Linked DNA regions of Homo sapiens: region 2 is linked to region 1. Evidence: fine-mapped expression QTL. Tissue or cell type: monocytes. Region 1 holds a variant in brackets; the other region holds the start of a gene. All regions are shown on one strand. Distances are between the middles of the regions.

What was found. PIP is the estimated chance that this variant, and not a neighbour inherited with it, causes the effect.
Region 2: SLC12A4 starts here. The variant in region 1 is fine-mapped to the expression of SLC12A4 in monocytes (Quach 2016, PIP 0.95).

The regions. Positions count from the first base shown.
Region 1 is chr16:68,161,611-68,164,110 of GRCh38, reverse strand. The region is part of intron 4 of NFATC3 (nuclear factor of activated T cells 3); the gene reads right to left. Among named protein-coding and RNA genes, the nearest start is that of MIR6773, 71 kb to the left of the region's middle. RefSeq lists an enhancer at 1-547. The variant G/AG (reference allele first, on the strand shown) is at 1,522.
Region 2 is chr16:67,967,501-67,970,120 of GRCh38, reverse strand. SLC12A4 (solute carrier family 12 member 4) reads left to right here and starts at 1,484. Exons shown (of 24, transcript NM_005072.5): 1 at 1,484-1,682. The coding sequence starts at 1,568. RefSeq lists silencers at 1,232-1,561, 1,692-2,021, 2,532-2,591.

The DNA of each region.
Region 1 (2,500 bases):
GTGCCTAGGCTGGAGTGCAGTGGCGTGATCTCGGCTCGCTACAACCTCCACCTCCCAGCCGCCTGCCTTGGCCTCCCAAAGTGCCGAGATTGCAGCCTCTGCCCGGCCGCCACCCCGTCTGGGAAGTGAGGAGCGTCTCTGCCTGGCCGCCCATCGTCTGGGACGTGAAGAGCCCCTCTGCCTGGCTGCCCAGTCTGGAAAGTGAGGAGCGTCTCTGCCCGGCCGCCATCCCATCTAGGAAGTGAGGAGCGCCTCTTCCCGGCCGCCATCCCATCTAGGAAGTGAGGAGCGTCTCTGCCCGGCCGCCCATCGTCTGAGATGTGGGGAGCGCCTCTGCCCCACCGCCCCGTCTGGGATGTGAGGAGCGCCTCTGCCCAGCCGCGACCCCGTCTGGGAGGTGAGGAGCGTCTCTGCCCGGCCGCCCCGTCAGAGAAGTGAGGAGACCCTCCGCCCGGCAGCTGCCCCGTCTGAGAAGTGAGGAGCCCATCCGCCCGGCAGCCGCCCCGTCTGGGAAGTGAGGAGCGTCTCCGCCCGGCAGCCACCCCGTCCAGGAGGGAGGTGGGGGTCAGCCCCCACCAGGCCAGCCGCCCCGTCCGGGAGGGAAGTGGGGGGGTCAGCCCCCCGCCCAGCCAGCAGCCCCGCCCGGGAGGTGAGGGGCGCCTCTGCCCGGCCGCCCCTACTGGGAAGTGAGAAGCCCCTCTGCCCGGCCAGCCGCCCCGTCCGGGAGGGAGGTGGTGGGGTCAGCCCCCAGCCCAGCCAGCCGCCCCGCCCGGGAGGTGAGGGGCGCCTCTGCCCGGCCGCCCCTACTGGGAAGTGAGGAGCCCCTCTGCCCGGCCACCACCCCGTCTGGGAGGTGTACCCAACAGCTCATTGAGAACGGGCCATGATGACAATGGCGGTTTTGTGGAATAGAAAGGGGGGAAAGGTGGGGAAAAGATTGAGAAATCGGATGGTTGCCATGTCTGTGTAGAAAGAGGTAGACATGGGAGACTTTTCATTTTGTTCTGTACTAAGAAAAATTCTCATTCTGTTGATCTGTGACCTTACCCCCAACCCTGTGCTCTCTGAAACATGTGCTGTGTCCACTCAGGGTTAAATGGATTAAGGGCGGTGCAAGATGTGCTTTGTTAAACAGATGCTTGAAGGCAGCGTGCTCGTTGTTAAGAGTCATCACCACTCCCTAATCGCAAGTACCCAGGGACACAAACACTGCGGAAGGCGGCAGGGTCCTCTGCCTAGGAAAACCAGAGACCTTTGTTCACTTGTTTATCTGCTGACCTTCCCTCCACTATTGTCCTATGACCCTGCCAAATCCCCCTCTGCGAGAAACACCCAAGAATGATCAATTAAAAAAAAAAAAATGATCAACATGTTCTTTGATCTTTGCTTGTCTTTCTTCAGCCCTTCTCTGTCTATAAAGTCAACCTTGTCGGAACACTTATGTATTTTATGGAATGAAGTGTTGCCCAATTCCAGAATCACCAATAAAGCCAATTGAGATGTTTAAAAAAAAAAAAAAAA[G/AG]AGTTTAGGCTTGAAATAACCAAGCCCATGGCTTAGTAGGCAAAACCAAGGGAGTATCTATGAATTTTTCCACACCTTATTGCCTTAAGAGAACAGTAAAGACACTTAATACATACTTAAGGTTCACTTATGCATAAATTATTTTGAACCATGGTCTTATCTATCACCTGGGAATTTTAAACCTACCATTATCTGGAACTATATTATATTCAACCACTGTACTGAATAATATAGTTACATTCAACAAGCTACTAGGATACTAGTTTATCCTAGCAATTAGCTACTGAGTAAACAGGCTCATTCATCATTAGCTACCCTGGTATCTACAGTACCTAAAAAAAGTTTCTTAGGTTTAGTAACATCCTAGTTGCCCCTTATTTAATCCTTTCTCCAATATACATAACGCTTGGGTCCTACAGAACTCCTGTTCCACAATCTACCAGTACAGAGCAGATAGAATGGTCAAGAAGTTTTAGGTATGTGTGTGGTAGGGTTGCAGGAGGAGGACTACCTGTATGTTACTAGTCATAGTGGTATTTCTGCAGCCTGGTCCTTTCTGGTCTAAAATACACAGTACATGCTAGATCTGGTTGAGGAAGGGACATAAATTATGACTATTACCCTTGTTCCATGTGCTAGTAAATGGAAGATGATGGAGGAGACAGGTAAATTTAGATCCTACTGCTCCAATGCTTTCATATTATTTGGGATATGAGCCTTTCCCAATTTCTTGATAATTTTTCATAGAAATTAATATACTCTTTTCTATTTATTGGTTTATATATTATTTTCAGAAAGGATATGAGGCATTTTACAATATAGATACAAATAAAGCCAAGAAAAAATAAATAGAAAAAATTTTAAAACACTAGGAAGTAAACTCCAAGTCTAGAGTTGTACAAATTACTATAATTACTGTAAACGGGCTTGACTATGAAGTTCTGGAAGCCAAGGCAAAAAGTAAATGTGATAAAGTTGT
Region 2 (2,620 bases), 190 kb after region 1:
AATTTTTTTGTATTTTTAGTAGAGACGGGGTTTCACTATTTGACCACGCTGGTCTCAAACTCCTGACCTCAGGTGATCCTCCCGCCTCAGCCTCCCAAAGTGTTGGGATTACCGGCGTGAGCCACCGCGCCAGGCCTGGATCAGGAATTTGATAAGTGAGGGTAGGGACAGAGGCTAGGTAGATGTCCCCCAGAGTGAACAGTGGGTGATGCCCAGAAACTATAGGTCTCAGGTGAGAGAGAGAGATTTGAAGGGCTGAGGCTGCGAGGTGGGTGGCGAGGGATGCGCCTGCAGAGGTCGGGGTCCGGCCGCATTGGGCAGGGCCTTATGGGCCCGGAGCTAGTAGGATTTTCCTTCAGAAGAGGCGGCTCTACGTGAGCAGGGGCGAGGGCAGGGAGTCCAGTAGGAAGGCCGCTACTGTGGGCGGCCGAAGGTGGCGTGAGGGGCGGGGGGGTCAGGTCGGCGGGCCCGCTGCGGGGGCCCTGGGGGAGGGGTCAGAGGGTGGTAAGCTCGGGGGTCGTCTTGCGGGGCCCAGCGGCTCTGATTCCGTACCCCCCACCCCAAGGGCTGGAGGCTGGCAGTAGGCGTAGTCAGAGGACGCCACCCGAGCCACGCGAGGGAGAAGAGTGGAGATAGACAAGTAAGATGGGCTCTGGGGTTTTCTGATAGAGAAAAAAATAGTAAAGCCAGCTAGATAAGTAATCTGAAGCAGTGGAGAAGAAAGTGAAAGAAACGTTAAAAGCAAATAAGTAAACGGCTTGGATAGAGGAACACCCAGGAGGCGAGATAGAGAAAGTTAAAATGAAGGGACTTGGCTACAGCACCCAGTGCACTGTCCCAAAAAGGCAAGCGAGGCAAGCGGGGCGGGGAAGGGTGGGTGTGCGTGTTCTTCCTGCGGAGGACGCAGCAGCCCCTGGGGAGGGACCGAGAATCCCCAGCTGCCTCCAACAGGAGAGGCTGCAGCTAGAGGGCCCAGGGCTGGGACGGGACCTTCGCGGGGGTCTGGTTCCCAGGGTCGCGGAGAAATGGGATGCAGACGCTGGAAATGGGAAGGAGGTATACGGGGTTGGTGGGAGGCCCTGGGCAGGTGGCTTCTGCAGTCCTGGGCCGGTCCGGCCTACCCTGCCCCGTCCCTAAGTAACAGAGCGCTTCGTAAGCCCAGGGCGCAGAGCCAGGACACTCCGCGACCCATCTCACGGAGCCCTAAAACAACCCCGAGGTGGAAGTGTGTTTCCCCCATTTTACAAATGTTGCATCTGGGGCTCAGAGAGGGCGGCCTCTCACCCGAGGTCACACAGGAATCGGGCCCGCCCCCAGGCCGTGGAGCCACTAGGAGTGCTCCCGCCCAGGGGTCTTCCCGCCACCAGGGCCCCCGCTCTGGGAGGAGCCGGCCGAGCCCCTCCCGCTCTCCGCCCCCGAGGGGCGGCCCGGGGGGCGGGCGGAGGAAGTGAGCGCAGCGGGGAGGAATGCGAGCGGGCGGGGCGTGTCGGCCCGGGGCGGCGGGGACAGCGGCGGGGACAGCGGCGGGCGGCTGGGACGGCGGGTGCGGCGGGGCCGAGCCCGCACGATGCCTCACTTCACCGTGGTGCCAGTGGACGGGCCGAGGCGCGGCGACTATGACAACCTCGAGGGGCTCAGTTGGGTGGACTACGGGGAGCGCGCCGAGCTGGATGACTCGGACGGTGAGGGCGCGTTCTGAGGGGCCGTGGCGGGGCAGCGGGGCCTGCCACCCGGGGCCGCCATCCCGGGCCCGCGCCCGCACCTATCCCGGGACCTTGCGCGCACACGTCGGTGCGGACTCAACTTTTTTTGGACCGCGCCGCTGCCACTGGCTCCCCGCCCTGCGCGCGCAGACACGATTTTCCTCGGCCCCCGGCGCCCGCGCCCGGCCGCTTTCTCCACCCCAGCTCCTCCCCTGTGGGCCCCGGGCGGGGGCTGCAGACGTGGCCGCCCAGGGAGGCCAGCCGGCCGGGCCGCCCGGCTTGGGGACAGGGCCGAGACCCCATCTCAGGCCCTTCCCGGCCCTTCAACTTCGGTGAATCCCACATCCTTTTCTCGCCTCGGTTCCTCATTTGAGATTCAGCGTCTTTGCCTTTGAGACGATCCGCTCCCCAACTGCCCAAACCCCTCCGTGTGCCTCTCTGCGCCTACCTGCACTCTGGCCAGAGTGTGCCTACTGGGGGGTCTATGGGTAACTGCCCGTGAGTGCGCCGGTGTAGATCTGTAGGGACAGTGGGCCTCAGTGAAGCACTCACATGGAGCCGGACGTGTCTAGGCACTTGAAGTGAGTTAACTCGTTTAATCCTCCAGCATCACCCTTGGGATAAGTACTGTTACTCTCATTAGGAAGCAGTGAAGGGAGGGGTGGCGGTTATATAACTTGCCCAGGGGCAGTCAAGCCTGGGTTTGAGATTCCAGCACCTTAACTCTTTAACTTAGGTGCCAGGGCCGAGAGGTAAGCCCCATCTCCCTCCTCCTTCCTCCCAGGTGCCCGCGTCTCTCCACAGCCCTTTCTCTATCTCCTACCCCAGGAGGCCCCCCAGAGGGCTGTTCTTGTTAAGGCCCACCCTCGGAGCACGAACACGGCTGAGGACATGTGTCTGTGTACGTAGTGGCATAT